Homo sapiens: one gene and its partners. The protein of the gene in region 3 purifies or fractionates together with the protein of the main gene of each other region. This does not show direct contact. Each region holds a gene or a part of one and is shown on either strand. Other genes may lie near its edges.

Region 1 (3,652 bases), on a different chromosome or scaffold from region 3:
AATTGCCACAGCATTGCTAGGTGGTGGGTTCCCTAGTTTCCTGAATTTTCAGAAACGGGATGTTTTGTTTGTTTGTATTTTGAGACAGAGTCTCGCTCTGTCACCCAGGCTGGAGAGCAGTGGTGCGATCTCGGCTCACTGCAACCTCTGCCTCCCGGGTTCAAGCGATTCTCCTGCCTCAGCCTCCTGAGTAGCTGGGCTTACAGGCAAGTGCCACCATGCCCGGCTAATTTTTGTATTTTTAGTAGAGTCAGGGTTTCACCATGTTGGCCAGGCTGGTCTCGAACTCCTGACCTCAGGTGATCTACCTGCCTCAGCCTCCCAAAGTGCTGGGACTATAGGTGTGAGCCACCACGCTTGGCCAGGAACTGGGGTTCTTGAGAGGTAGAGTAACTGCCCCAGGTTACCCTGCAGTGGATAGGTCCAGGCAGCTGGCCCCCAGCCCAGGTTCCTAACCACCAGGCTGCACTGCCTGGAGCCTCCTGCTAGGGCCAGCACTGCTTGTGCTGAAATGGGGCTCACTGGCCAGCGTTTGACCTACTTCCTTGTTCCCTGTGGCCTGGGTAGGATATTTGCTGAACTGACCAACATGCTCCTGCGTGTGAGTCACTGGGCTTGCAATCTGGAAAGGATACACATGAACTCACCAGTCCTTGGGTAGCTTAGACCATTGTTTATTAAATTGTGTTTTGAGGTGGTTAGGCCTTGAATGTTCACATAATAGCTTTGCGAACTCTGTTGCTCAGGCTGGAGTGCAATGGTGCGATCTCAGCTCACTGCAACCTTTGCCTCCCAGGTTCAAGCAATTCTCCTGCCTCAGCCTCCCAAGAAGCTGGAACTACAGGTGCGCGCCACCACACCTAATTTTTGTATTTTTAGTAGGGACACGGTTTTGCCATGTTGGCCAGGCTGGTCTTGAACTCCTGACCTCAGGTGATGCACCTACCTCGGCTTCCGAAAGTGCTGGGATTACAGGCATGAGCCACTGCGCCTGGCTTGTACTTAACTCTTGAATAGCTAGAGAAATGACTTATACCCAAGTTGGCTGATTGAAATTTTAGAGTTCCTATCCTGCTCCCTTTGAGAAGTTTCTTTTCAAAACCCATTAGCTGGTAGGTTACTTGAAAAGGAAAGATTTTAGTGAGGGGCCAAACAGTGAATGTGAGGGAGTGGTGGGCCTTCTTTCTGCCCCGACCTCCACATTCTGGGTGTGCATTTGTGGGTTCCAGTCCCACCTCCACACCCTGCTGCCTGGGGCCTCAGTGGGCCTGCATCCTCTCACCCCAGCCTGTGTTTTCCCACCTGTGAAATGGGCCGATGTGCCTGTCTTACAGGGAAGCTCCCAGCCTGGTACCAAATAGGTGCTCAGGAAATGCCAGCTCCCACCTCTGCGGCAGCCAGCTGGAGGGGAGACTTCATACAGTGGGGTCTTTGAAGATGTTGTTAGAATGAAATCCAAAATGCTTTCAAACAGAAAAAGTAGAGGAGAAAAAGCACAGCCATCGTTTCTAATAGCTAGCCTGGCTGAGTTCTTGCCACGCTGTTCTGACCACTATGTTTATGATTCCACCCGCACCTGCCAGCAACTCTGTGAGATGAATCTTCTGCCTCTCTCCATTTTGCAGATGAGGAAACTGAGGGTCTGGGGAACTGTTTACTTGCCTGCTGTCATGTGGTCAGGAAGTGGGGAGCCAGGCTGTCAGGCAACAGGCCGGCATTTTGGGCCAAAGGAGAAGAGATTATTTTTATACAGATTGGAAAAATAAAAACAACAGTGTGAGAATGGGCTGGGAGATTTAAAGTCCCCGACTACTGCTCAGATCCTAATTTGTCAATTCTCATGTGGGAGATGCCGGCATGAGTTGAACAAGCAGCAGGATGTGTAGTACCAGAAGTTCTCGGTCTTACCCGCCTACCGTCGTGGTGGTTTGCGGAGACCGAGATGAAGGTGTCTCTCACACCCCTTGGGCCCCTGCTGCGGATGCTGGTGTTGCTGGGTTCTGTAGAAGTGGGAATGCTGGTGCTGGCTTCCCTCACATCTCTGTCCCTCTCGCTGCAGGACAGCAATTTGAGGTGTTCTCACGACCTCTGCTTACCCGGATTGTATCTGTTTTGTGGTTCTGTGCAGCAGTCCTAGGGCAGCTGAGTGCTTGCGGACTGCTCGCCTCCCCTGCCGTGCCCTCCTGGCCCTGCTTTCTGAACCCCTCGTGAGCCCTATGTGGGAGGGGTAGGCACTTAGTGGGCAAAGTTGTGTTGGTGCCGTGGTCCCGAGGTGCTCAGTGCATCTAGTGGGGACATGGCTTTACAGCTGGCCAGGCCTGAGCAAGCATTGTGGCCTCAAGGACCAGGTCCCAGGGAGAAGGTTTTCTGGATGGGGCTGCCAGGAACTGCTGTGCCCCAGCTACAGAAGCAGAGGGCCAAAGCCAGAGCCACAGACAGCAGGAAGAGACAACGCTGGGGGGAGAAAGTTCAATGTTGCAATTCAGTGGTTCGCTTACCATTTACCATTGCAGGGAAAATAGGAGAACATGGAGGAAAACAGAAAAAAACAGGGAAGAGTGAGTTAGTAAAAATGAGAGGCATCGAAAGTTACTGGACCTGCACCATTCCTGAGGCTCAGTGCTGGCCTCTGGGGGTGGGAGGGGAGCTGCAGGTGTGGGGAGGGTGTGGTGTGGATCCACAGTGGAGCCCCTGCAATGAAATCCTGAAAACTGGTGCAGCGTGTCCTGCGGGCGAGTGGACAGTTGCTTTCCCCCACAGAGCCTCGCGGTGGGGGCGGGGGTGGAGTGACCTGTCAGTGGCCGCAGGATGGGCAGTGCCCCACAGCAGGGATGCCTGCTGTCTTGCGTTCTGAAAGGACAGTTCCCGGCACCTCGAGACAGGAGGTTTTCTATGCCTATGTGACTTTGTATGTTGCGTTTCCTTCTAAATTTTGTTTTATTTCTGGGGTGTGTGTACTGGTGGAGAACTTTGGATTTAGTAGAATATCTGAGGTGAATCTAAATAGATTCTTCCCAGTCTCCTGGCTTGTGTACCTGGACGGTTGGAGTTGTTGTGTCCTGAGATGGGCCAGGCCACAGGCACAGGACCAGGGGTTTGGTGTGAGGCAGGTCATGTGTGAGGTACCTGCTTGATAGCCAAACGGGCATGCCAAGTGGTTGAGTAGGGGTCTGGAGTTGAGGGGAGAGGACTGGGCTGAGGTCTAGAGCAGGCCATTGTTCATACCTGCATCCTCTCGCAAGCCCGAGACAGGATGAGATTACCAAGGGAGTGAGAGTAGAGAAGGGGAGGGGACAGAGAGCAGTGTGTCCCAGGATGATGATGGTGAGGGAGGTGATGGGGTGAGGAAGATGATGGCGAGGAGTTGATGAGGGAGGTGATGGTGAGGGAGGTGATGGTGAGCTCCTGAGGGAGGTGATGGGGTGAAGGAGATGATGGTGAGGAGTTGAGGGAGGTGATGGGGTGGAGGGAGGTGATACGGTGAGGGAGGTGATGGTGAGGAGTTGAGGGAGGTGATGGGGTGGAGGGAGGTGATACGGTGAGGGAGGTGATGGTGAGCTCATGAGGGAGGTGATGGGGTGAGGGAGGTGATGGGGTGAAGGAGATGATGGTGAAGAGTTGAGGGAGGTGATGGGGTGAGGGAAGTGATACG
Region 2 (2,784 bases), on a different chromosome or scaffold from region 3:
ATGAGCCTATTTGCGTTTGGAAGGAAAGATGCCTTCCTTTACATTCTTCACACTGGTAATTTTTTCATACTGAATTAAGAAATTATCATCCCTTCAAAACACATATTAATATAGCAACATTAGAGTAAGGGAGATGGCATTTCATCTCCTCTCCTCAGTCCCTTGATGTTGGAATGTTATTATCATTTCCAGGAGCCATACTTTGAAATTAAAAACAAATTGAGGCATTACCAGTCTGATGAAGGAATTTTAAATGCAAGCCATTTAAAGAATACTTGAAGGATTTGGGGAGACTTAGGTTAGGAAAAAGAGGGGAATACAATTAGTGCATTAGAACAAGATGCTCTGTGGTTCAGAGGGGTGGAATGAGGCCTACTGAATGAGGCCGTAGGGACACAGATTTGGGTTCCATGTCAGGGCGACCATTCTCAAAAAGTTGGTTCACTATGGGACAGTCTGCCTCAGGTAATAGCCTCTGTCAAGAGGCAAAGATGTGGAGAGGATCCAATTGGTTGGAGATTGGAGCAGGTGACCTATTAACCTAAATTCCATGTTGTATGTAGTACTTTGCCTCTCATAACATGTTCAATTAAATATCTGTTAATTCATAGCTAATGATTTTTTTAATGGGGCCTCGTTCTTCTGCCACAAGTGCATCCCACCTTTATCTTTCAGGGAAGAGGTTGGTTGCACGTTGTTAGGCCAAGAGACTGGCCCTCCATTATGCCCTATGCTGGACTTGCTTTGTCGGTCCATTCATTGATGTCCTGTTGAATCAAAAGGTATTGTTTTAGTAGAAGTTACATGAAGTATATTCATTTATCACTTGCTAAACATAGGCCTTGCTCTGTTTAATAAATAATGGGTGTCTCTTTCAAGATTTTAGGATAGGCCTTTTTAACAGAGCAGAATCTTCTGTTAAAGTTCTCACAAACAGACCAACTCCCAAGAGAGATGGGCTGGTGGGTCACTGACATAAAGCAGTCCACAAGATCTATTTTAGAAAAGTATCAATGACATTTCCTTAGTTGGTTTGATTCTCTTGAGAATACATGAGTTTAAAAGAACTGAGGTCAAATTGCTTTATGTGGAAAGCAATAAAAACAAGTATTTTTGACTTGCAAATTAGAGGTAACTGTAAGCAATTTTTGCTATTGAAGCCTATGGCCCAAATTATTCCACCTGCAAAATAACTTTCACCCTTGCAAGGCTGATAGACGGCTCTTCATTGGTCTTTTTTTATGGTTTTGTTTTGTTTTTTTAAGTCATTGGTCTTAAATCTGTATGGTGACAAATCTATTTGAGTTTGATTGAGACTTTCTTGGACTCCTTTGGACAAGAGGTCAGAGCACAAAGGCTAGTCACCACTTCTTTGACTTCTTGAGGTATGAGCCAAAATTTTACTTTTCCATTGATTTAAAGCAGAATTTTTGGAGATGCTGTGTTCTAGTTCCTGACGGAATCGGTGGTGGTTGCTGACTTTGACACTTTGGAGAGTGATGTGGGGAGTTATATAGAAGGGGAAACACTAGTTTAGGTGTGAGGAGTTCTAGTATGCCACAAATTAGCTGAGACTTTAGACGAAGCACAATATTTGAGCATCAATCTTCTCATCTATGAGATAGACCTGTCAGGATTATTGTGAAAATTAGATGAGATAAGTTGAAAGTACAGTGCTTGGTAAACAGTTAGCACTCAAATATTAGTTCTTTTTCACTTTAATTAAGAGCAGACTTTGAATGGTCTGATGCCAAGTGTAGATCCTTAAGAGACAAAACAAAGAAACTTTCCTGGCTTCAAAGAAAAGAACTCCATTTCTGAAAGGGTGCCTTAAAAGGAATTCATTTGTCTGATCCATCCTTTTGCCTTTGGGCATTACTACTGTCACCCTCCATTTCTTTACAAACTTCAGGCAAGGTGGTCTCTCTCTCTCTCCCAATAGGCAATTCCAGGGTTGTAAACTCATTATCAGGAAGCTTAATCTTAGAACTGAAATACCTCACAGAGCAATTTAAACCTCTTTCTTCTTGTTCCTATTCTTCATGGGAAGAAAACTGGGTTGATCCCTATCTTCTTTTTAAGGAGCCACATTTGCCATTTATTATTGCTCTTTTGCCTATTTAAAAAAAATAACAGTCAGAAAAAATAATGATTATTAAAATGATAGTCATTATTTACTTAGTGAATGTCAGGATAGGTATTTATTACTCTTAGCTTCTTATTGGTATCAGATGTAGATCACGGTCTTACTGTTGATTAACTCTTCAGTTATATATACATACTTTGATTCTTTAGTTACATAATTGATAACAAAGTGTGCTTCTGAAGAATTATTCTGGCTGTATGGCTCTTGTTTCCTCCCCTTGGTAAAAATGGAGGCATGAATCTCGGTTTTGTGATCTGCTTTTAATTTCATATATGACATTATTTGATGTACATAATTACCAACATCCAAAAGCGTTTCTTCCCCTTTCTACGTGTGCACTAAATTCTAAAACAAAAATTGGAATACAAAATGCCTAATAAAGAAAAAATTCATGTACAGAAAAGCAAAAGATAATCTACTTTGTTAAGATAATTTGTCACTAGCTGGTTGAATAATGCACAGTTTTTGTTTAAGGTTACACATTTATGCCTGGATTAAATAACAATAGTAAAACTTGACAAGTCTTTTGAAAAACAGCTGCTAAACATATTGCTTTCTGGAATGTAATCATTAGCAACAAATATTCTCTTATTCTATACAATTGCAGAATGCTAGTGGAACTTTCTTGTAGGTTATTT
Region 3 (3,752 bases):
CACACATCATAATTTCCTTAGCCATTCCCTTCTGGTTGACCATTTAGGTTGTTTCCAATGATTTACTGCTCTAAGGAATGCTTTGAAGAAGAGCTTCCTGTGTATTTGGGTTTTTGTTACATTCCCAGAAGTGGGGCAGTGGGTTCTTACAGACTTAATGCTTAAAGGGCATCCACTTAAAAATAAGGATCAACAGCTTCTGATCAGTATTTCTTAAAAACGACCTTTGACAAAAGTAGAGTTTTCTCTAGCCATTACAGAGATGGCTAAGTAAAAACACAGAGCCTGTTTTTACTTATCACATCCTTAGCACTCAGCTTGCCAGCTACTATCTGCAGCTACCAAAACTAGGCAAACAGTGCTCTTGGTCCTGACGCCTCTATTGACCTCTACCCATGCTCACATTACTGTATCTCAAATCCCTAAGAGCTGCTTGGGATGCTGATCACGGTGAGGGCAGAGAGTAGGCTCAGCCTCTTCAGGGTCTTCCCCACCCTTTCATATCTCAGGATCCAGCTTTCCTGACGAGAAGCCTTGTCTAGATAAGGCAGGGAGGCCCTGGTGCCTACAAGTTGATCAGCCCAAGTCATCTTAAGCCCTGGAACACGCAATTTAGACGGACACTTCCAGAGGCAGACAGGTCCCTCCCCTACTTTCTGATTTCTCCCTTTTTCCCCAGACTGGAGCAAAACAATATTAAAACAGCCTGGGTTACACTTTATTGAAGAGGCCAGCTTAGGACGACTTTAAGAACTAGGTGACCACAGTCTTAAGACAGGCAGGGGCAAGGCTGTAAGATTTTACTCTCAGCCAGTTCACACTCCTAACTGTGAGATCAGGCCTCTACAGACCTTATGGGCCTATCAAACCCAAAGAAAATTTCCTGGAGGTGCCTACTCAGAGGGGCTCCCTCCTGGTCACTCCTTATAGCCTTGCTCGGTCCAGGGCAGGGTGGGTTCGGTCTCTCGGTGAGAACAAGAGGAACACATTTAGCTCTGCATTATGTATTTAGGTTGAGAGAAACAATTTCGAATGAATGGGGGTCTCTCCAACAAAGCAGTCTAGAACGGGCCCCTGAGGTTTGAATTCAGGCCTTAGGAATGCCAAAGCTCACTGAGCGATTCTGTTTGCAAACCCACCCGCCACGGGGACGGATTTTCCCCGAGACACTGTCACCCATGCCTCCAGCTCTGGGCATACCCCACTGCGGCCCCTCCCCAATGACCTCCCCTGCCCCTCGCGGACCAGCCCATCCTCAAGATAGTACAACTTTCCGGGCCACCCCACGTCTCCTCTCGCCCCCGTCCGGTTGCTTGGAAATGTGCACGGGACGGTGACGTCACACAGGGAGGCGGGTCCCCACTGTCCCGCACACCAATGGCGCGGCGGCCGCCGGCCTCTTGGTTCCCGGCGATTGGTGTCTCTGGCCGCTGCGCTCCACCCCAGCCCGCCATGGCGTCAGGCGCCGCGGCCCCGGGGAGGTGGCTCCCACTTTAAGAAGTGAAGTTTTGCGCCCCTCCCCCTCCCTGCCCACCTCCTGCAGCCTCCTGCGCCCCGCCGAGCTGGCGGATGGAGCTGCGCAGCGGGAGCGTGGGCAGCCAGGCGGTGGCGCGGAGGATGGATGGGGACAGCCGAGATGGCGGCGGCGGCAAGGACGCCACCGGGTCGGAGGACTACGAGAACCTGCCGACTAGCGCCTCCGTGTCCACCCACATGACAGCAGGAGCGATGGCCGGGATCCTGGAGCACTCGGTCATGTACCCGGTGGACTCGGTGAAGGTGAGGCGCGGGGAGACTTCGGGGACGCAACGAGCGGAGAAGGAGCGCGCGCGCGCATTTGCATCCCGCGCGCCGGCAGCCTCGGGGCAGCGTCCCGAAACCGAGCTCTCCCCAGGACCGCGGCTGGCCGGGGTCGCCCCAGGAGCAGCTGCGCGCAGCCTGGGCGCCGCGCCTTCCGCCGACCCCGCGAGGGTGCCCGGTCCTCGCCCCGCACCGCCCGCTGCTCCAGCCGCGTGCCCGGCCCCGGCTGCTGGCGGCGCTGAGGCGGGGGAGGCGGAGTGGCGAGCACCGCTGGCTTCGGCGGCGACTGGGCTCCCGGGGGACGCGATCGCTGAAGCTCTGCACAGTCTTACCACGCTGGCCGTTCGGGCTGGCTGGGGCCGCCCACACGTGCGCGGTTTCCGAGGGAGCTCCCCGCAGGGGAAGCCCTCACCACGCTGGAGCTGAGAAACGTGTGGCCCTGGCCCGGCCGCGCGCCCTCGGGACTTGGTGTGTGGCTGCTGCTCCCCGGGTTATTTCGGGAACTTGGGGCCGGCAAGTCTTCTCTCGACTAGTGGCAGCTCTTTACCGGTTCGACAGCGGCCCGTGGGATCCCCTTTCTGAGGGTTCCTGCACTTCTTCCCCCGACTTTGGGTCGCCGAGCCGCCGGGAGGCAATGACGTTTGCCTTCTCCTTTTGCTTGCGGGGAGGTGGGTGGGCTTGTGCCTTACAGCCCTTGCTGTGGATTGTGTGAGAGGCACTCAGTTTCCTTTAAACCCTGTCTGTCACTTGCCCCGGTAGTTTTAACTGCATTTCTGTAAAGAGGCAGCGTTACTAGGTGCGTTTTGCCTGGTAGACTGAGACCTGCCCTCTGTCAGCCTGCCCAGAACACCCCAGGGCCAGGATAGAGTAGTGCAGGAAGTAATGCCAGTATTGACTGTTACACGTTGCACTTTTATAGGCATAACTCGCCTAATTCATGCAACAGCCCTGGGGGTTAACAGATGAAGAAACTGAGGCGCAGAGAGGCGAACCGATTACCTTGCCCAGGCTCCTACACCACCTCCTATCCTCTGGCTGCAGCTGCAGTGTGCTTTGGAGGATTCGGAGGCCTCTCTAGGTGGCAATTATTTTGCAAGGCAGGTCCCACAGAGGCACCCCCAGCAGCTTTATCTTGTTGCTGATGCTGGTCCTGCATGAGCAGGTATGAAGGCCAGAAAGTATAACTCAGAGGGTTTTCCCGGCTCCGGGGAGCTCGCTTGGAGCCAGCAGTCAGTGTCTGGACAGGCAGAAGTCCAGTGAGGAAAGACATGGGCTTCCAAGGTGCTGCTGGACCTAAGCCTGAGCCATCACCCATATGTCCCTCCAGTGTCCCAGTGGGGAGTTAGAGGAATGGTTCTCATCTCCAGGAAAGACACTGGACTGATACCAGGTGGCATTTGTATGGGAAAGAATCCCTCAAATGTAATAAAATTCTCCATGATTGAAGCTGTTGTCTCAACTGCCCTGGGCAGAGTCTGGGGAAAGTTAGGAGCAGGGAGGTGTTATCTGAGCAGGCCCTAGTCCTACTGGTGTCTTGAGATGAATGTTCTATTCGGGAACCCCACAGTGAGTTCACTTTAGAGCATCATTTTAGCTTATTTTTAGGATTAGAAATAATTAGTTGTGCCTTCTGAGCACCCTTTGACACTCTCAAGAGGCGTTTCTCACACGTTTAAATTGTGTGATCTGTGTTTAGTTTCTCCCTGCCCCATACATGTTGATATGTTTTGGTTCAGATGTCACCTGTATACTTAGTATTACTTTCCATAGCAGTTTTCACCTGTGGACAGGTTAACATGGTGTGAATGGTAGAAGGAGCCGGTCTGGTTTTCCTAGACAAGTCTGTAAAACAAGGCGTGGGTTAGCTAATCAGTGAAGTCTTCTAGGTTCTGGGATTATAACTGACCCTTAGGGGCCCTTCCATGCTGAAGTGTGCAGGGTTGGTTTTGAGG

The links.
Region 1: the proteins of SLC25A37 (region 3) and TMEM181 purify together in Homo sapiens (affinity purification with mass spectrometry; one large-scale study listed by BioGRID and IntAct). This does not show direct contact.
Region 2: the proteins of SLC25A37 (region 3) and RAB30 purify together in Homo sapiens (affinity purification with mass spectrometry; one large-scale study listed by BioGRID and IntAct). This does not show direct contact.

The regions. Positions count from the first base shown.
Region 1 is NC_000006.12:158,563,081-158,566,732, forward strand, and holds part of TMEM181 (transmembrane protein 181), read left to right. Parts: intron 1-3,652.
Region 2 is NC_000011.10:82,975,196-82,977,979, reverse strand, and holds part of RAB30 (ras-related protein Rab-30), read left to right. Parts: 3' UTR 1-2,784. UniProt on the Homo sapiens protein: The small GTPases Rab are key regulators of intracellular membrane trafficking, from the formation of transport vesicles to their fusion with membranes.
Region 3 is NC_000008.11:23,527,434-23,531,185, forward strand, and holds the start of SLC25A37 (mitoferrin-1), read left to right. Parts: upstream 1-1,522; 5' UTR 1,523-1,569; coding exon 1,570-1,779; intron 1,780-3,752. UniProt on the Homo sapiens protein: Mitochondrial iron transporter that specifically mediates iron uptake in developing erythroid cells, thereby playing an essential role in heme biosynthesis.